5 separate regions of the Homo sapiens genome follow, and regions 1, 3, 4 and 5 are each linked to region 2. Evidence: fine-mapped expression QTL. A gene starts in region 2. Each other region holds a variant in brackets. All regions are shown on one strand. Distances are from middle to middle.

The links. PIP is the estimated chance that this variant, and not a neighbour inherited with it, causes the effect.
Region 1: its variant is fine-mapped to the expression of TMEM63A in whole blood (TOPMed, PIP above 0.99).
Region 3: its variant is fine-mapped to the expression of TMEM63A in whole blood (TOPMed, PIP above 0.99).
Region 4: its variant is fine-mapped to the expression of TMEM63A in monocytes after LPS (Fairfax 2014, PIP 0.95). The same link has a PIP of 0.9 or more in monocytes and monocytes after interferon gamma.
Region 5: its variant is fine-mapped to the expression of TMEM63A in lung (TOPMed, PIP 0.90).

What each region holds. Positions count from the first base shown.
Region 1 is chr1:225,850,705-225,854,817 of GRCh38, reverse strand. TMEM63A (transmembrane protein 63A) reads left to right here. Exons shown (of 25, transcript NM_014698.3): 19 at 1,027-1,189; 20 at 2,049-2,154. Among named protein-coding and RNA genes, the nearest start is that of TMEM63A, 30 kb to the left of the region's middle. RefSeq lists enhancers at 2,608-2,657, 4,042-4,113 and a silencer at 2,748-2,797. The variant T/C (reference allele first, on the strand shown) is at 2,388.
Region 2 is chr1:225,880,247-225,884,359 of GRCh38, reverse strand. TMEM63A (transmembrane protein 63A) reads left to right here and starts at 1,980. Exons shown (of 25, transcript NM_014698.3): 1 at 1,980-2,056. RefSeq lists enhancers at 1,062-1,111, 1,172-1,221, 3,424-4,113 and silencers at 1,732-1,891, 2,452-2,571.
Region 3 is chr1:225,905,016-225,909,128 of GRCh38, reverse strand. No RefSeq gene overlaps it. Among named protein-coding and RNA genes, the nearest start is that of MIR6741, 15 kb to the left of the region's middle. RefSeq lists an enhancer at 1,920-2,693. The variant T/C (reference allele first, on the strand shown) is at 2,432.
Region 4 is chr1:225,843,390-225,847,502 of GRCh38, reverse strand. It overlaps EPHX1 (epoxide hydrolase 1), which reads right to left. Exons shown (of 9, transcript NM_001136018.4): 8 at 2,880-3,005; 9 at 1,940-2,357. The coding sequence ends at 2,156. It overlaps TMEM63A (transmembrane protein 63A), which reads left to right. Exons shown (of 25, transcript NM_014698.3): 24 at 290-469; 25 at 571-1,967. The coding sequence ends at 463. Among named protein-coding and RNA genes, the nearest start is that of EPHX1, 35 kb to the right of the region's middle. RefSeq lists an enhancer at 787-1,597. The variant T/C (reference allele first, on the strand shown) is at 1,728.
Region 5 is chr1:225,859,651-225,863,763 of GRCh38, reverse strand. It overlaps TMEM63A (transmembrane protein 63A), which reads left to right. Exons shown (of 25, transcript NM_014698.3): 11 at 913-993; 12 at 1,186-1,309; 13 at 1,413-1,546; 14 at 2,767-2,904. Among named protein-coding and RNA genes, the nearest start is that of TMEM63A, 21 kb to the left of the region's middle. The variant TGG/G (reference allele first, on the strand shown) is at 1,968.

The DNA of each region.
Region 1 (4,113 bases), 30 kb after region 2:
CCCCAGTTCTGGGTCCACACTGCCTCTCTAGGTGACTTCAGCTGAACCCACGGCTTCCATGCCATGATACTGCTCCTGAATTAACTTATGCGGACAACATCCACATTTATGCCTCTAGCCTGCACCTCCAGGCTGGTAACCCAACTGCCCACCTCAAACTCTAGCTGGAGTTTTACTGGGTACCACGGATGTTACCTGCCCAAAACCAAACTCTCGACTTTTACCCTCAAATCTGCTACTCTACAACTTTCCCCATTCCATATTGTTTTTCTACTTGTTTTGGCAAAAAACCTCAAAGTTCACCTTGTTTCCTTTCTATCCCTCCCATGCCATACCCAGCCTACCAGAAAATCCTGACAACTCTCTCTAAAGTAGATCCAGAATCCCTTCATATCTCACCACCTCCATCACAACCGCCCTCATCCCACATGGGGATGACACAGTGGCCATCTGTGTAGTCTCCCTGACCCCATTGGAACAGATCCCTTGTCCTGGGCTGGCCCCCAGCCCCTTTCAGCCTTGTCTTCTGCCTCCCCTCGCCCACTGCTGTCCAGCCCCTGGATGTGCAGCAGACGAGGACATCCTCAGGTGTCTTGTATGTTGTTCCCTTTCCCTGGAATCCTGTCTTCCCAGGTTTGGGGATGACTTGCTCCTTCACCTCTTCACATTTCTGCACGAATATCACCTCGTTAGAAAGGCTCCTCCAACCCCTGTATGACATAGGAACCCTCCCTGCTTTGTTTTCCTCTAGTGCTCACCGTCCCCAGCAGATGGAATATTTGTTTGTCTGCTTGTTTGTGCCCCCAGCTAGAATGTGAACTTCAAGAGAGTGGCGCAGGGGCTTTGTTCTATTCTCAGTGCCTAGAAAGGTGCTTGGCACACAGATGTGTTTCCCAAATATGTGCTGAATGAACGGAAGAGTATACAGCCCTCCCAGGGGCTTTCTGCTCCTGCCCAGCCTAGGGGCCCCTCCTCTCCCTCCAAGAGCGGCTCTCAGCTCACAGACCTGGGCCCTGGTTTCCCCAGGTGCGTCTTCCTGCCTGACCAGGGTGCCTTCTTTGTGAACTATGTCATCGCCTCGGCCTTCATCGGCAATGGCATGGAGCTGCTGCGGCTGCCAGGTCTCATCCTCTATACCTTCCGCATGATCATGGCCAAGACGGCTGCTGACCGCAGGAATGTCAAGCAGGTGCCATCCCCTGGGCCCAGGGCTGTGCCTCTGACTCCCTCCCATGTCCCCCTTCACTGACCCGAGGGCCTCTCACCCCCACTACCCCCACTAGTGGGTAGCATTTACCTGACTACCCACTAGTGCAGGCACTGGGCTAAGTGCTTCTCAAACCCGGGTCCAGGCAGGCGTGGCCTCCTCCAGCCTCCTCTCTAGCTCACAGGCTGGAGGAGAGAGCTTGGGACTTTGGCATTTGAAACGGTTTGATCGCACACATACATACATACAACTCAAACCAACAGACTCTTTTTCTGTAGGCACCCATTTGCATAAATTCTTAGCCAAACCCCAGATGTCAAAGGCATTTTCGGCTTGTGGCATTTATTCCAGGATTCCCTGAACTGGAGGGTGTGGCTTTCTCTTTTATTCTCCTCTGCCATGGTGGGCACTGTGCGAGGAAAGTGGGAGAAGTGCTGCATTCCTTCATTTCATTCTCAGCCCCCTTATGAGCTGGGCACTGCTAGTATCCCGATTTCACAGAGGCATGAACTAAGCTGGCCCAGGATCCCCTGCTAGAAGGGCTGGAGTCACTCTACACCTCTTCCCTGACCACCTCTTCCCTCCAGGGGCTCACATGCCTGTTGGGTGGAACGAAGGGAGCACTAGCAAACACGCATCACCATGCCTCGGGAGGGCTGGGTGCACTGAGTGAAGCAGGGCAGGCTGGGAGGGATGGGAAGGACCTTGGGAGGCGGGGAGCCACGCATCTCCTATTTCCAAAGTCCTCCTCCACCCTGCTCTCCCATCACCACTTAGAGAGCACAAAAGGGTGTTTGAGGTGGAACAAGTCCATGAGCTCCTCACCACCTCCTCCTCCCAGAACCAGGCCTTCCAGTACGAGTTTGGAGCCATGTATGCATGGATGCTGTGTGTCTTCACTGTCATCGTGGCCTACAGCATCACTTGTCCCATCATCGCGCCATTTGGTGAGTGGCCCTGGAGCCTGTCCCAGGGTACATGGGTACATGGACGGCTGATTGCACCAAACCTCTCGGGGACAGCTATCACCAGGGCACAATGGAGTTCCCAAAACCACAGCCACAAGAGCCACAAGCTGCTAAAGACTCACGTGACACCAGATTTCACTCATTTCTTTCTTTTTTTGTTTTGAGACAGGGTCTCATGCTGATGCCCAGGCTGGAGTGGCATGATCTTGGCT[T/C]ACTGCAACCCCCACCTCCTGGGCTCAAGCCATCCTCCCATCTCAGCCTCCTGAGTAGCTGGGATTACAGGTGCCCGCCACCATGCCTGCCTAACTTTTTGTATTTTTAGTAGAGATGGGGTTTCACCATGTTGGCCAGCCTGGTCTTGAACTCCTGACCTCAGGTGATCCACCCGCCTCAGCCTCCCAAAGTGCTGGGATTATAGGCATGAGCCACAGCACCCGGCCTCATTCATTTTTAAATGAATTCCTCCCACTGGCCCTCAGCTAGGACCTCTCTTAGTATTTCTGGTCTGAGGTTCTCTGCCCACTGACTATGTCGTTCATGGTTGATTTCTTTAGCAGCAAGTAAGACAGTGCCAGAGTCACAATCAAAGCTCTCGTGCTGCTTTCACTCTGGCAGATGCCTGCCTCCACGTGGATTACCACATTTCTCACCTCATCCTACAAGGCAGTTCCTGTTTCTATTCCCCCTTCACACAAAATAACTTCGTATGTTGTTAGTAAGCAGGAGAACCAGCCTTTGAACTCAGGACTGTTTAAAGACCAAGGTCCTGGCCACTGAAATAAAACATCTGCAACTGGCAGATTAATGAAAGGCTCTAGAAGGAAACAAAAAACCCAAGAGACTGCTGGCAGTGATAGCTGAGTTTTAGGGGGAAAAGTTGTTTTAGTTTTCCCTGTATACTTTCTTGTGTAGTTTTAAAAATCTACAGTATTTACACTTTCAAAACAAAATTTATTTTTTAAAAAAGAACCTGGGGCTGGGCACGATGGCTTATGCCTGTAATCCCAGCACTTTGGGAGGCCTAGGCAGTGCATCACCTGAGGTCAAAAGTTCAAGAACAACCTGGCCAATATGATGAAACCCTGTCCCTACTAAAAATACAAAAATTAACTGGGCATGGTGGCAGGCGCCTGTAATCCCAGCTACTCGGGAGGCTGAGGTAGGAGAATCACTTGAACTCAGGAGGCAGAGGTTGCAGTGAGCCAAGATTGCACCAGTGCACTCCAGCCTGACCAATGAGCGAGACTCCATCTCAAAAAAAATAAAAAATAAAAAAACAAAAGAACCTGGCATAATAGAAAAGGCAGCACCCACTTTCTGTTGGTCCCCTGTGTGCTCCTGTGCCACCCCTGGGGTAAGACCCTTGGGCCTCATTCTCTGTTGACTGTGATGAGGGCAGGGATCAGCCGGGTGGGAGAAGGCCAGGGGTGTGGGAGCACTGACATACAGGGGCTCAGCATGGGAAGGGCTGGGGAGGAATTGAGGCCAGGCATCCAACTGTGAAACAGCCTCTTTCCAAGATGATTCTGGAATGTTAGTGTTCTGTGGGGACAGGATCACAGACACTGTGACTCCCTTGGTGCAGGGTCTGTCCCACAGACCCTGACCCAGCGACGGATGAAAGACATACACTGCCGGGTGCGGTGGCTCTCGCCTGTAATCCCAGCACTTTGGGAGGCAAAGGTGGGCGGATCACGAGGTCAGGAGATCGAGACCATCCTGGTTAACATGGTGAAACCCTATCTCTACTAAAAATATAAAAAATTAGCCGGGCATGGTGTCAGGCGCCCGTAGTCCCAGCTACTTGAGAGGCTGAGGCAGAAGAATGGCATGAACCCAGGAGGCGGAGCTTGCAGTGAGCCGAGATCGCACCACTGCACTCCAGCCTGGGCAACAGAGACTCTGTCTCAAAAAAACAGACAGACAGACATACACTGA
Region 2 (4,113 bases):
TTAAAAAATAAAATAGTGATTTTACAAGCACTTCACACAACTGACATAACAAAGGCTGTGGCTATCTCAACTCACATATCGATCCATCAAGGCCTTCTCTTGATTTTGAAATAACCTTAACCTACTCAAGAACAAATTTAGAAATCCTTTCTCTCTCTGAAATCTTTGTCAGTGGCTCCAGCATTCTAATTACCAAGACCGGAACCTTGCACTTGCCTGGACCCATGGCACAGACCAGACAGGTGGGGGCACCATTCATTGAGGAAGGAAGGAGGACAGGCAGGTGCGGGAGTGGGGAGTGGAAGAAAGATTGGACAGGGACAGTCTAAGGAGCCAACGGGGAGTCCAGGGGCCACACCCAGGACTCTGCAGACCGTCAGATGTGGAGGTAAGAGAGCAGGGAGGGGGGATGGCCAGGCGCAGCTATGGAGGGACAAGGGCAGAGATGATACTGGCGGGGGGCATAGAGGAAAAACCCTGGAAAATAACTAGTGGCTAGAGCTTTGGGGAGAGAAGGGGAAAGACAGATGGGACAGAAAAGAACTGAGAGAGGCAGGAAGAGACCCTCCCCACCCCACTCCTGGACAGCCACAGACTGGCGCTAGAATCAGGGACAGGGAGGTAAGGAGGAATTTTTTTTTTTTTTTTTTTTTTTTTGAGACAGAGTTTCGCTCTTGTTGCCCAGGCTGGAGTTCAATGGTGAAATCTCAGCTCACCGCAACCTCCGCCTCCCAGGTTCAAGCGATTCTCCTGCCTCAGACTCCCTAGTAGCTGGGATTACAGGCATGTGCCACCACACCCGGCTAATTTTGTATTTTTAGTAGAGACGGGGTTTCTCCATGCGGGTCAGGCTGGTCTCGAACTCCAGACCTAAGGTGATCCGCCCACCTCGGCCTCCCAAAGTGCTGGTATTACAGGCATGAGCCACCGCGCCCGGCCATAAGGAGGATATTTTTATGCCGTTACAGAAAAAGATGAAAGCTCAGAAATGGAAGGGAGGTCGGAGAACCTGCAAAGGCATGCATGTGGGGTGAGGACTGCTCAGAGCTCAGAGAGGGGTGCTGGAAGGGACCTGAGAGGAAGCTTTGGTCCAACCACTCATTTCACAGATAGGGAAACAGGGGCCTGCGGACGGGTTGGTTTGCTCCTTGATTCCCAGGGCGCGCGGTCCTCCCCGAACCCAGCCTCGCTTCCCGCGCAGCGCCCAGCAGTCCCTGGCGCGGCGGGCCGGCCCTGCCCTCGCGAGCTTGCGGTCCGGTTGTGGAGGCCACCGGCTCCCTGGAAACATTTGGCTCCCGGCCGGGAGGCATGCCGCGCTCTCGGACCTGGGCTGGAGTAGGTGCCCTTGGCGGCCCTGGCTCGAGCAGTAATGGACTAGCCCCAGGGGGCGTTGGAAATGCTGCGACCCGCCCCCACATTTTTGCCCGAACGGAGACCCTCCGGGCTTTCACGGTCCGGCCTTCTACAGCGGCGGGGGAGCCGTGGCCTCTTGCAGGGCGCTCCGCGCGGTTCCCGACTACCCGGAGCCGAGGTGCGGGCTGAATCCTGCTGAGCTCCCCATGCTACCACCCCCGCAACCCCACTCTCCCGGGGCGGGTCTAAGAGCTCTTCGGGGAAATTCAAAGCACTACAGGGACCAACGTTTGCAGATGCTCTCCCTGCGCCGCGACCACCCTGTGCTTGGCCCAGTTCTCCCGGAGGCGTCCAGAGACTGGGCTCGTGCCGGGGGACGGAAGAGGGTGCGCCCCGGCGGATCCCTTCTTGGAGCCTGGACGTGAGCTGGCCGGTCCGGGGCTTGCAGACCTCCGGGAGGAGCTGCGGGGCTGAGCGGCGACCAGGAGGCCAGGCCGGGGCAGAGGACCGCCGAGGGCCACCGCGGGAGGCGCAGTCAGCTGCGTACAGGCTTGCGCCGCCGCGGGCCAAGACTCCAAATTGGGAAAGGGGTGGCCGCAGCTCTGCGCATGTGCAGGAGGCGCCGGAGTTTCACTTTGTAACTTTTAAGTGGTCGGAACACGCCCCGCGCTGCTGGGTCCCGCCAGACACGCCGCCGCCGCAGGTACAGGGGACAGGGGGCGTGAGGAGGGGCAATGCACCCTCCGCCTTTCCCGGGACGTGCGCGCCAGGTGTCCGGTTCCGGAACGGCTCCCAGCCTACGCAGACCCCAGAGCCCCCGACCCCAAGCAGGGGGTGACGACGCGGGATTGGGTGGGAGGAGAGGGTCCGGGCAGCGCCTCCATTCCAGCCCTGCGCTCCTTGGGAATTCCTGGCGGCTTTTCAGGACTTTCCTCTCCGGCTTTTCGCTTTCAGGGCTGGTATCTCCTTCTTCCCCACCCCTCTCTTTGGGATTTGTCGGCGGAGTCCGACCTCCCACCTAACTAGGAGTGCAGCTATGGGCTCCTCGGACCCTATACGAGGCCGGGCTGGGAAAGGGCCAAGCGTCCGACTCTCCTGACGCCAGGAAGGCAGAGGCCACCCCTCGGGCTGTTCCTGGGTGACCACTTCCTGCAGCCTTGGCGGAGTCCTGAGGAGGGAGGCTGGGGACTCGGGGACTGGGGGGAAGGGCGGGGGCGGAAAGGGTGAGGCGAGCTCTGCTAAGAAACCAAATCCGCAAAGGTTCCAGCACCTGATAAGACTAGCTACCTGAGGCCCTGGAGGGGCCTTGGTCATTCAGCCCCAGGCAGGTGGTGTCCTCTTCAAGGGCAGGGGTGGACAGCGTGGCGGACCCACTGACCCTCCCTTGACACCTCTCAGGTCATCCTCAAGTCTGCTGTGCCTTCAAGGGGGATATGAACGGAAGCCGAGGCTCCTTTTCCCTTCACACGCCCCTCTCCTTTGTTTAGTGTGGGGGCAAAGGTCTCTCCTAGCTGTTCGTTGGGCTCTAACAGAGAAGACGTCAGGTGGGATCCTGCCCTTGTGTTTCCCATTAGCTGGAGGGGCGACTTAAAATAAAGGCAGACAGCTTCTAATTGCTTGCTAGGGCCGGGTCCTGGGCTAAGTGCTTTACAGGTGTTGTTTGGGATCTGTGCCTCCCAACAGCTCCGTGAGAGAAAGTCATCACTCGCATTTCCTGGCGAAGGAAGCCAAGGCACAGAGTGGTTAGGCTGCTTGTCTGAACTGCGTGGTGCTGAGACCCTAACTCCAGAGCCTGCTCACATAATCCCTGAGCCACACTGCCTCTGGTTTCAGCCAGGGGCTGTGTCATTTCCTTTGTGCTCCAGGGTAGGAGGTAAACAGTTGTCCAGGTTACTGGGTCCTGTTTGGTGTTGCCATAAGGAGAAGTTTGTACTTTACTTTGCAACCTTATTCTGCATCTGAAAGACCAGAGTTAGCTCCTGAGGCAGAAGGCCTGGAGCTGCTTGTAGTTTCGCTATTGTCATCACAGGATTGAAAGATTTGGTGATGATAAAATTACCCTGAATTTGTACGGGCCTTCTTGCAAGAACGAACAATATCCATATACTTCCTGCAACATTCTGCTGGTATTTCTAGAGCTTGTCAAGTTGACCACCAGGCCAGTCCTTGCTGCCAATGGAGACTGGCAGTGGATTAGCATAGGTAGTTTACTTTGGCAAATTTAGACCAGCTGTTGGATTTAGCCCTCTCCCACTGGCCACAATCAGACGCTTGCCTGCACATGGGTTGAACTTTGGGTTGGGAGCGTGAAGTCACCTGCTGCCCACTCTGGCTCTTGGGCCTCAGCAGTAATTCTTGGCTTTCCTACCCTCGGCATATTGAGTAGGAATAAGGGGATGAATGGAGAATTTCTGGAAGGCACAGGTAAGTGCTAGGCATTCACATACATCTAGGATGACTGAATATTGCCAGGGGTTCTCAGCCAGGCAGTGCCACTTCAACCACAGTGCCTAGCTGCTGGTTTGGCCTCCTCTATACAGCTGCCAGCTGGGTGCTCCCCTCCCCCTGCCTTCTCCTCAGCCTGGCAGCACTGTCCCATGGTGTCTGTGTTCCCAGCTGCCTGCTCAGAGCGTGCCTGTTTGTGAAAATGCAGAGGAGCTGTCCCATGGAGAGCCAGAGGGACGGAGCTGTTTCAGGGGGATCTGGACTTTATGTGTCTAATGGGCAGGGACAGGCTGGGACTGAGCTGAAAGGTCTGAG
Region 3 (4,113 bases), 25 kb before region 2:
AAGGCTTAAAGAGCCTTGGCTTCCCCCAGTGTATCCCCCTAATATCAATTGCTTGTTTAAAATTCAATTTGTTTAATGCACAGATAAGCTAAAACCTCCACCGTCTACAGGGTTCCTGTTGTTTGCTCAGTGCAGAGCACAATGGCTATTGTTTAGCAGGTATTTAATGAGGATTGTTGAGCCATGAGATGAGGGCAGGTGAGAGAGAAGCAGGTGTGGAAGCCAGGCCAAGGCTTCTGCTTGGTGACACCATTAACTGACCTGGAAAATCCTGGAAGGGGATAGGTTTGAGAGGAATAATAAAAATAAAAGCTGCGTTCATGGAGTGCCAGATACAGGTCAAAGCTGGAGCTGGACTTCCCCAACCTTCCCCAGTCCCCACAAACAACCCTATCCAGTGCGTGTTTCTATCTGACGCCCGTTTTCACAAATGAGAAAAATGAGGCTCATTGGGGTTGCCCAGGGCCGAGATGAGATGAGCAGCATGGCTGGAGCCTGCGCTGAACCCCATTGCCATCGGGAGTTCCTCTTTAAGGGGAGGTGGGCCCCCCATTTTCAGACCGTAGGGAAAGAGGCAGGGCCTCAGAAGAATCTGGAGGCACAGATGTGGGTTTGCAACCTGGCACTGTGACTGTGGACTTGGAGCTGAGTCCACATCAGTGTAGGCAGAGTGGCACATCACATTCCTGGGCTGCTACAGCAAAACTGTAATGACCAGGCCTGGGTCGCTTAAGCAACAGAAATGTGTTTGTCAACCTTGGCACGGTGGTGGCTCATGCCTATAATCCCAGCTACTCAGGAGGCTGAGGTAGGAGAATTGTTTGAGGCCAGGAGTTCTAGACAAGCCTGGGCAACATGGTGAGACCCCTGTCTCTACCAAAGAAAGCCAGGTATGGTGGCTTATGCCTGTAATCCCAGTGCTTTGGGAGGGAGGCCAAGGTGGGAGGATTGTTTGAGGACAGGAGTTTGAGACCAGCCAGGGCAATACAGCAAGACCCCATCTCTACAAAAAATAAAAGAAAAAGAAATTTATTTTCTCACAGTTCTGGAGGCTAGAAGTTCAAGACCAGGGACACCAGTCATACTGGATTAGAGTCCATCCTAGTGACCTCATCTAACTTAATTTTCTCTTTAAAGGCCCTATGTCCAAATAGACACATTCAGAGGTACTGAGGGTTAGAGTTTAAGCATATGAATTTTGGGGGTCCACAATTCAGCCCATGTCAAGCAGCCTGGAGATCATGAAGAGTCAAGGGATGAGGGAGAAGAAGGAGACAGAGGGCCTGGGGAAGCAGGGGGAGGATTTCAGCACAAGGGTGGAGTGGAGCCTCCAGCTGGCCTGGGTGAGAGGGGCAGGGTGAGGAGGGCCACGTTCCTGAACCCAGACCCCTGGATAGGAGGATGCTCAGGAGAAGAATGAGGCTGCATGGCAAATGCACCCGTCAGGCAGACCTACTTCAGACGAAGGTCAGTGTGGCTGTGGAGGCCCCGCTGGTCATCCCCAGCCAGGGCTGTGGTGTCTTCATCATGGAGAATACAGGCCGCTCCCCAGAGCTGTGGTGTGCAGGGCTCAGGCCGCACTGACCCCTTCCCTGCTGGGCTGAGCAGCTGGAAATCCAGGCTGCAGGGGAGCCATTTCCTCAGGGAGCCCTCCCACTCCTCACACAGAGTCTGCTTCAGGCCCAGGCCACACCTGGAACAAAGGCGGTCACGACCACCCCTGAACCCCTGGCCACAGGACCCAGAGCCCCAGTTCAACCCCCACTGTGAACCACTGTGAGCACTCCTCATCTTGCCCACCTCTGAAGGGGCCAGCTTTGTTCTTTTCCTTCTCCTTGCCGCCTGTCTGGAATCGGCCTGTGGCGGCTCCCATCTGGTGGCCAAAGGACCTTGGGCTGTAAGATAGGAAAAGGCTGAACTCTGTTGTTGGACACATTCTGGGGGCTTCCAGGTACCAAGCAGGAGGATCAAACCTTCCCAGGGACCAGCATCTTTCATTAACAAAATCCAAAACCATGTCACAGGACCCTCAGGAGCCTACTCCGTGGGCATGGGGCAGCCACAGAGCCAGCCTTGGCCTCGGTGCTGCCCTCAGTCAGCTCGTGGTCCGGGAAGGGATCATACACACTGCCACAGTCACAGCCTCACACTTACACATGGACACACCCACACATGCTCCCACACGCATGTGCACACACACACACGCACACACACACACCATAGGATGCTTCTGTTTTATTTGACACCAAACTAACACATCTTGGAAACTTCTTATGGAAACACCAACAGTAAACATGGAAAGTGGAAATAAAACACACACCCGAGATGATTCCTAATTAGCGGAAACAGCCCTAGTCTAGATCCAGAGACCCTGGAGGGACACGAACGTGGTGCAGGTCAAATTCCCCGTTGTCCAGCGAGGGTCATGGGC[T/C]GCCCAAGGCCACACAGCTCACTGCCCTGTGCCATGTCCAATCCCCTTGCAGCCTCCCTCAGCTCATGCTCAAGTCACACAGGCCTCCCCAGGCCTGCCCTGTCAATGCTGACCCACAAACAGGCTCACATAATGCTCCCTCCCAGGGGCACAGCAGCCTTGGCTTTGATCTGAGGTGGGGCTTTCCTGGCCTGAAAGTTGATGTGGCCAGCCTTCAACCTGTCCCCCATATCACCGTCTGCTTTTGGAGACCCAGGGCAGGAAGCTGAAGCCTTATGTGGGAAAATGAGGGCTGGTCCCACGGCAGCCCTGGGGACCAGCTCTCTCCTTCGCTTTATGTATTATTTCATTTTTAATTACAGAACCAAGGTAGCAGAGCCTCTCAGGCTGAGCCAGAAAATAATCAGCTTTTTAATTTGATTTTTGTTCTCCCAAAGGAGAACAAGGGGCTCCAGGGGCACCATGAGGCCTGGACCTTGGAGATATGGTTAGATCCTCTAACCTATAGATGCTTGACTCCAGGCTGGCTCACCATCTACAGTGGGGTGACCTCCGCAGGCCCCAGTTTCTCTCTCTTTAAAATGAGCGGTTGGACCAAAGCTTCCTCTCAGGTCCCTTCCAGCACCAAGCCTCTCTGATCTCTGAGCAGTCCTCACCCCACATGCGTGGCTTTGCAAATTTTCCGACCTCTCTTCCATTTCTGAGCTTTCATCTTTTTCTGTAACGGCATAAAAATATCCTCCTTACCTCCCTGTCCCTGATTCTAGCGCCAGTCTGTGGCTGTCCAGGGGTGGGGTGGGGAGGGTCTCTTCCTGCCTCTCTCAGTTCTTTTCTGTCCCCTCTGGCTTTCCCCTTCTCTCCCCAAACCTCTAGCCACTAGTTATTTCCCAGAGTTTTTCCTCTGTGCTCCCCTCAGTATCATCTCTGCTCTTGTACCTCTGTAGCTGTGCCTGGCCATCTACTCTCCCTGCTCTCTTACCTCCTGCCAAAGACCCCACATCTGACCTTCTGCAGAGTCCTGGATGTGGCCCCTGGACTTCCCATCAGTTCTTCAGACTGTCCCTGTCCAATCTTCTTTCCACTCCCCACTCCCGCACCTGCCTGTCCTCCCTTCCCTGCCTCAATGAATGGTGCCCCCTCCACCCTGCCTGATCTATGCCATGGGTCCAGGCAAGTGCAAGGTCTGGCCCTGGGACCAGAAGGATGGGCCTTGACTCAGGGCGAGGAAGGACCCTCTTCCTAGCTTCCCCCAAATAGCTTGATCCACCTCCCTTCTCAGTTACACTGTGCAGCTTTCTTGCTCTGAAAGGTTGGAGACATTTACTGTTTTTGAAATTGTAGGATCTCTGTTCCTCAGACCCAAGGTGCAGAATGTCTTGGTTATGAGTCGGTGACAAAGCCCTGCCAAATCCAGGTCTCCAGACTCCACCCCAGGGGTCTCCCTGGTCTGACACTGCAAGCTGTGCTCCTCCCCAACCTCCCAACATCTGGACTCGCTGGGAGCTCCCTGGAGCTGGAAGCATGGGCTGGTTTCAGCAAGGACCTGCTGTCACTGGGCTGAGGAGGACAGGCCACTGGTGCTGCCCCCTCACAGGAAGGTCCATGAACAATGCACTAGGTGCCTTCCTGTCAGAAGATGCTCTGGGAATTCCTGGGTGGCCAGAGCCCTCCACCCTGGGTCT
Region 4 (4,113 bases), 37 kb after region 2:
CTCCTAGGATCCAGGGCTAGGAAGTTTAGTTTCCTCTGAGAACTGCTCTCTTGTGCTTCCTTCTGTGATCATGAGAACTGTATAACTGTGCTTTCTCTTTTGCCCTGGCTGCTAGGAAATTCTGCAGGTGTCATATTTTCGGTCTTAATGTCCTAAATGGATGTCGGTGTTTCTTCATATGTCCTTTATGGCCACTGTCTGTGTCCTGTTGGGAGAAGGGCAGGAGGGGAGGGATGCAGTGTGGAAGCTCATGCCTGTCCAGGCCAAGCACAAATCCATTTGCTGACAGCCCTACGTGCCTCGGATTCTGAACGGCTTGGCCTCGGAGAGGACAGCACTGTCTCCGCAGCAGCAGCAGCAGCAGACCTATGGTGCCATCCACAACATCAGCGGGACTATCCCTGGACAGTGCTTGGCGCAGAGCGCCACGGGCAGTGTGGCTGCTGCCCCCCAGGAGGCCTGAGGCTGGGTGAGCTGCTGGCTGGGCCAGGCTCAGGGGAGCCTGTGGGGTGAGAAGACAGGTGAAGCGGCCTGACTCCCAAGTTCATGACTTCTTCCCATCTGTTTTAGGTCTCACTGCTCTGAAAAGACACAACCAGAATGGCCTGGGGCTCAGGCCCTTGGCTGAGTGGGAATGCGTTGGGACTGCCCAGCTGAGCTATCAGGTGCCCATCTTTTCTGGTCCCAGCAGTGGTGAGGAGAGCACAGGCAGGCCTCGCCCCTCCCTTGCTCACCCAGTTTCCCCTCCGGCACAAGCTTCCAGCTCTGCAGCTGGGGTGACATCCCCAGTGGTTTGTCGCCAAGACCATGTGGTGGACTTTTCGCCCCCCAAACTGATGAGTCCGGGAGAATATATGGAGAGAGAGATGTAACAAGGGGAAGGCCTCCTCCCTTCTGAGCACACACACAACCGATAACCAAAGAGATGCTGCAGTCCAGGTCTGAGGTCCCGCTGGCATCCAGCTCCCTGCTCCATGGCCAGTCCCTCCCCAGCCCAGCAGTCCCTCCAGGCTACATCCAGGAGTAAGCTATGGGGAACAGGTTGGGAGGTGGCCAGTGCTCCTGCCAGCTGTGCACACATCTCTGTATCCCGCTAGAGTTCTGTGTTTTTGTATCATGTTGTCAGGGACGCTAGCTGGGTCAGGGTTACCCCATAGCAGGCAGGGACAAGGACCACTCATAATATGCCCATTGGACCACAGTTAAGATCCAGCCTCTCTCACCTCTTCAGGGCTGAGTGCATGAGTCTGCACCTCCAGGCAGGCTCTGTGCAGTACTCACCCCCTCCGTCTGCTCCCTCCAAGGTGTGGGGGTGGGCAGTGCTCAGGGCCTCCTCGGAGCCAAAGGACAGCATGGTCGGCACAGAGGAAGGGGTACCTGGGCTGGGTGCAGGGCCATCCCACTGCCCTTGAGCTGTGGCTCTGGCAGGAAGGAGGGGCAGCCCATCCCTCTTCTCCCTCCTGGGGATTCTGGGGAATGGGATGCAACTTAAGACTTCTGCCTGAGAAGCCTCCTCCCTGCTGCCTCCAGGGGGCACCAAGGCACAAGCCTGTGCAGTAGGGGCGGGATGGGGGTGTGGAAGAGCAGGTCCAGGCTCCTAGCACAACTGGCCTGGGGCCTTGGCACCTCTGTAGGCCCTGCCTGTGCCTGTCCGCTGGCCTGGGGGGCCTGGGCTTATCTGGGCCTTCTCACTCAGGGACTCTCTTGACGCTGACTTGCCCCCGCAG[T/C]GGTGGCCAGTGCTGCCTCTGCTCCAAGCTGCCCCTGCGCTGGGAGGGGTGGGGGCGGTGCCATTGGTCTGGTGCAGCATAGCCCTGGCCAGTGGCCTCATCCCCAGCAGGCCTCCCGTGCCTCTGCCAGCAAGGAGGGGCCGGCCAGCTCTGCTTGCACAGGGGGCCCCATGTGGGGTCAGCGCACGCTCATGTCACTGAGTTCCAGCCGCTTTTAGAGTAAAGTCGTTTATCATCAAAGCCATGTTGCTTACCACACGGAGTTGGGGGTTGGGGAGTGAGCTTGGAGGGGTGAGGGGGTGAGCGTGGGCTCCCAGCATGGGCAGGGGACGGAGGCAAACTCATTCCTCAGAAAAGGGGTATCTTCCCCAAGAAAAGCCTGGAGGGCACTTGTGGGGGGAGGTGGCAGGCGGGGGGAGAGGGGTGGGTCATTGCCGCTCCAGCACCGACAGGAACTTGCGGATGTCCTGGGCGAGCAGCTCCGGCTCCTCAAAGGCCGCAAAGTGGCCCCCACGAACCATGTAGGAATAGGAGATGAGCTTTGGGTACTTGAACCTCACCCACTTTTCAGGCGTGTGCAATAGCTCAAAAGGGAAGGCAGAGAAGCCAGTGGGCACATAGACCTTCATCCTGGAAGTGAAAGAGCCGACGGAGGGGTGAGGCTGTGGCCCTGCGCCCCTCCGTCCTGCACAGCAGGGGGTTAAAGCGCCTGGGGGTGAGATCAGCTGGCCCACCCACAAGGAGCCATAAAGAAAAGGACAAATCCAGGGTCTCAACCGCTCTCCCCTCACTGAGGGCCTTCTCTTTTCTGGGAGGGCCACCCAGGCAGGGGCATGGGACAGCCTCTAAATCCCCACCTTTGAGGGTTTCCATGTGAGACTTGGAAATCCCAGAACCATCAGTGCCACTCCAGACCAGCATCCTAGACTGGGGAGCGGTACTGAGGGCCGCCCGGGAGCCAGGCACCTGGTCCCTCCATGAGGGCTTTCTCCAAACACCTCGACCTTTAGTGTTCCCATCCAAGGGCCCCTGGGGCACCTGCAGGCAAGGCTATACTTATCCCACCACCAAGTGCCCTTCGTGGAGCCCAAGACTGGCCGTCCCCCTGCCTCCAGCCTCAGAGGCCCCTGTTCTCGGCTCAGCCAGGCTCACCGCTCATGCTTCTGGGTCATCCAGCCCTGTCCCAGGTTCTCCTTGTAGAAGCGCTGGGAGGAGATGATGGTGCCTGTTGTCCAGTAGAGCATGACGTTGGTCAGCAGGTCGTCCAGGGAGAACTTCCTGGGAACGCAGAACACAAAGCCCCACTCTCAGTGCCACATGCAGTTGTGTGACAAAGGGCAGCCAGAAAGTCCTACAAATGCCAGGCCCTGCCCATGCGGCTTCCCTCCTCAGACCTCATGCAACGTGTGTGGTATCCTCGTGTCACAGGCAGGCTGCGCCCAGGGCACTAGACTGGAGCGCATGGATTTAGTTGAAGTGTCTCTTATCACCCCAAGGTCCTCCCCCCACCCACCTTGCCTCTACACACCTGTCCCCTCTCTCCTGCCACTGACCTCTCCTCCCTCCCCTCAACCCCTGCACCGTGAAACTGCTCAGGGCACCAGCTACTGTGGTGACCACATACCAGGCAGCATGTTCTAAGCTCCTTACCTTCTTTTAATTCATGTTTTCCTCTCAACAGCCTATGGGACATAGGTACTATTATCTCCATTTTACTTATTAAGTGGAGAATCCAAACCTAGCCAGCTTGGGTCCAGGATGCATACTCCACAGCCCCCACCCCACCTTCCACTTTCCCCAGAGCACGCCCTCCCAACCCTACCTTCCTCACTCAAACCCTGAATCTCTAGCAACAGCAGCAGGGAGCAGGGACAGAGATAAAGGGAACAGCCTTTTCAATGTGATTTTGGTGGCAAAATGAAAACTGGTCAATGAAAACTAGTTCCAGTATACACATCACCTCTGTGAACTGGATTTCTGCAAGTTGGCCAAGTGCTTCCATCTCCCTTTCAGCTCTGCCCGCAGCTTGAAAACGACCACGACCACCATTTCCACCCTAGTGTATTCCTGTTCTTTCTAGAACACAGATCTGATCCTGTCTACCTCCTGCTCAGGGATTTGGTGCTCCCTGTAACCCGGGGCCAGAGCTGCAGGAGTGGCCTAGTGGGATAGTCTGGTGGGGCCTCACATCTTGCTCCAGGTATCCGTGTGCAAGGAGCAGGCCAGACCCCCTGCCAAGGTGGTCTTGCAGAAGCTCCATCAACCCCTGTGTCCTGCTGAATGTAGGGCAGGGGAAACAGATCCCAGACGAAGGCCCTGCTGAGGCTCTTGGAGGAGGTGAGGACCTGCCTGCAGGAATGAGTTTGCTTTTGATCTGGCCCCAGTG
Region 5 (4,113 bases), 21 kb after region 2:
TGTATTTTTAGTAGAGACAGCGTTTCACCACATTGGCCAGGCTGGTCGCAAACTCCTGACCTCAAGTGATCCACCCGGCTCAGCCTCCCGAAGTGCTGGGATTACAGGCATGAGCCACCGCACCTGGCCTTGCTGGTTGTTAATATGTGTGTAGATATTTTCTGGTCTGAGGGTCCTTTGCTTTCATTAGACCCTCTGAAAGGTCTGTGACCTTAAAAAAGGCTACCTGAATAGGATTTCAGTGATGGCTCAAGGTAGATACTGACCTAGCACAAACAATAAATCTGTTCCTTTGGGTCTTTAGAGGGGATAGTGATGTGTTCATTTTTCCCCAGGAGAAGTGCCAGCTGATTCCAAGCCAAGTGGGTATAAACTTGTCAGTTCCAGGCAGTTAGCTTCATACTACTAAAAAAGGCTAGCGGGGTGCAGTGACTCACGCCTACAATCCCAGCACTTTGGGAGGGTGAGACAGGAGGAGTGCTTGAGGCCAGAAGTTCGAAATCAGCCTGGGCAACATAGCGAGACCCCGTCTCTACAAAAAATAAAAATCAGCCTGGTGGCATGTGCCTGTAGCCCCAGCTACTCAGGAGGCTGAGGTGGGAGGATTGATTGAGCCCAGAAGGTTGAGGCTACAGTGAGCCATGATTGTGCCACTGTACAGCAGCCTGGGTGACAGAGTGAGACCCTGTCTCTAAACAAAACAAAACAAAACAAAAGCCCTCTTTGTATTAAATTTCAAAATTTCCCCCTTTTGGAGGATAAAAGACAAAGAGAAGAGAGGTCTCCGCTGGCACAGAAACCAGCAGCGAGATCACTCTGCCATCCTTTCCCTTGGATCCGTGGGCACGTCTCCTGCTTGGGGTGTTTTCTTTTCCAACGGTGTCTTTTGCCTCCTTCTCTCCCTGGCCACAGGGACGCGTATCCCACGTGTGAGGTGGTTGATGTGCAGCTGTGCTACAACGTGGCCAAACTGATCTACCTGTGCAAGGAGAAGTGAGTGGTGGGCGGGCCTTGCAAGATGCCCCCTCCTTCCTTGCTGGCCTCGCATCTCCCAGCTAGGAAGGGAGGCGGGAGGCCCTGGACCCCTCCTTCTCCCCTGGCGTTCGATGGTTGAACTGTGGGTATGGGGGTCCCTGCCACAGGATTCTAAATCTGAGGTTTGTGCCCCCGCTCCCACCCCTACAGAAAGAAGACTGAGAAGAGCCTGACCTATTACACAAACCTGCAGGTGAAGACAGGCCAGCGGACCCTCATCAACCCCAAGCCCTGTGGCCAGTTTTGCTGCTGTGAAGTGCTGGGCTGTGAGTGGGTAAGGGTCCCACCCCCCGGCTGGGAGCAGAGGCATTGGCATCGGGGTGCCCCAGATACCAGCATGGGGCCACGTCATCCCAATGGGATGTGTCTTGTGGCAGGAAGACGCCATCTCTTACTACACACGGATGAAGGACAGGCTGCTGGAGAGGATCACAGAGGAAGAACGCCACGTCCAGGACCAGCCCCTGGGAATGGCCTTCGTCACCTTCCAGGAGAAGTCCATGGCCACCTAGTGAGTGTAGGCACATCCAGACCCCTTCTTGGCTGACTCCCTGTTCCCCTCCAGATAACTCACTGTCCCTCTCGAGTGGAGATGGTACTGCTGACCCACCATCCCTGGGATTTATCTGTGGTGTTTCCTTCTCCTCCCTCAGCTACCCACACTCACTTTCAGCCAGCCCAGCCCATGTTTGTGTAACAGGCGGTGGGGGTGTGGGCAGCAGCCACGGAGTGGGTGATTCTGGCTGACCCCCTCGAGCTGATGTGGCCTGGCCCCACTGCTGGGCTCTTCCCTGCTGCCCTGGACCCATCCTGTTGGCTTCATGTGCCAGCCTTGCCCCAGGGGAGATGGAGGCACCCTCCTTTCAGACATCTGCTCTGGGCCACAGATCCTTCTGTCTGTGGCTCCCCACCTTCCCACAAATGCAAAGCTG[TGG/G]GGAAGACCCCTGGGGCACGCTGGGGCGCTCACTGCAGTGGGGAGCTTGACCCTGGGGAGTGGCTTTTCACAGTGGCCCTTGGCATGGGACTCTAGGCTCTCATGCCTGTGGTCTCAGTGTCATCTCGCCTTAGGAGCAGCACAGGGTGGGTCGGGAGAGGGGTGTGGAAAGGTGTCCAGCCACTGCCCCAGGCATTGTGACACTAGGAATGGACTCACACAGGACTTCCTGCCTCCTTGCAGACACTGGGGCAGGAGGAAAGGGGAAGGCATCTGAGGCAGGAGTAGAGGGGCTGCTGGGCTCCTTACGGGAGGTTAAAGGAGGAAAAGCTGTGACCTGTTGAGATGGTGAGGGTCGAGGTGGGAGCCCTGAGGAGGGAAGCTTGGGAACAGGCAATGTGTAACGTGGTCTATTGCTACACTTGGGCCTGGGGAAAAAGTGACAGAATGAAAAGTTGAGCCACTGGCCTGGCAGTAGCACTGATCAGAGCTCCAGCTTAACAGGCAGGGTGGAGGGGGATGGCCCTATGGAAGAGCAGTGTGTTGCCCTCAGTTTCCTTATCTGTAAAATGGGAATCGTACTCCCTTTGTTGCTGGTGGTTGCGAGGATTAAACAAAATTCTCCACACACTGTGCTAGCGTGGCACCTCTTACATAGCGTTACTCATAATACACTAATCACAACAAAGCAAAGGTCCTATGCCACTGCCTCCCACTCCTACTCAGTCCCCACTTGCCACATGTGTGCTTGGTAACCTGAGTAGCCTGGGCCTGGCTGTTGCTACATTTCCTTGCAGCATCCTGAAAGATTTCAATGCCTGCAAGTGTCAGAGCCTTCAGTGCAAAGGTGAGCCCCAGCCGTCCTCCCATAGCAGGGAGCTCTATACCTCCAAGTGGACAGTCACCTTTGCTGCTGACCCTGAGGACATCTGCTGGTAAGCTCCTAGACCAAGGAGAGGTGGGAGAGAGGCCTGGGTTCCTGGTGGGAGCTGCCCATCACCTGGAGCACAGGTGTGACCTGGCAGTCAATGGAGATCTCCACACATCTGCAATTCTGTGGGCTGTGATGCTGTGATGTGCTCGGTGTGGCCCAACTGGGGTATCTGCCCAGCCCTTCCCTCCAGTGTTCCTCCCTAGCATTCAAGTGCTACCCAGCAGAAATATAATGCCAGTTCTGCATCTAATTTTAAATTTCCTAATAGCCATGCTAAAAAAGTAAAAAGAAACAGTTGAAATTAATTTTAATAATGTATCTCGCCCAATATATCCAAACTGTTATTTCAACATGCAATTTTTGAAAAATGTGAGATGTTTTACATTCTCTTTTTCACACTTAGTCTTCAATATCTGGTGTGTATTTTACACTTCTAGCACCTCTCAATTCACACCAGCCACATTTAAAATGCTCAGTAGCCGCATGCAGCTTGTGCAGCCTTACTTAGGTCCAGTGTCAGCCTGGGGCCGTGCTGGGGAGCTGAGCTGTGTCCATGGGGGCCCTGGTGAGCCTCCAGTGCTGTGCTGAGGGTAAGGGCACCCAGCGCAAGCCCCAGCGCAGCTGCCTGTCCAGCCCTGCCTCAGCTCCTTGCACAGAATGAGCTTGAAGTGCTCCCCTCTGCTCGGTTCTAGTTCTGCCTCTGACAGTTTTGCTCTTTGGTTCACAAGGCTTCCTAAACTCAGGATTGCTTTGTGGGTCTGTTCTTTGGGATGAGAGGCCAGGGCAGGTGCAAGCTATGCCTTCACTCCTTTGTCCCTGCCTTCCTCCTTCCTGTACCCCAGCTACAGCCCCGTTGGGAAGAATGTGTCGTTAGTCACAAAGCATTGCAGATGTGTCTAAGAAATGCCACGCTGGGGCCGGGCGTGGTGCTCACACCTGTAATCCCAGCACTTCGAGAGGCTGAGGCAGGCGGATTGCCTGAGCTCAGGATTTCAAGACCACCCTGGGTAACATGGTGAAACCCTGTCTCTACTAAAAATACAAAAAAATTAGCTGGGTGTGGTGGTACACGCCTATAGTCCCAGCTACATGGGAGGCTGAGCAGGAGAATTGCTTGAACCTGGGAGGCAGAGGTTGCAGTGAGCCGAGATCACACCACTGCACTCTAGCCTGGGTGACTGAGCAAGACTCTGTCTCCAAAAAAAAAAAA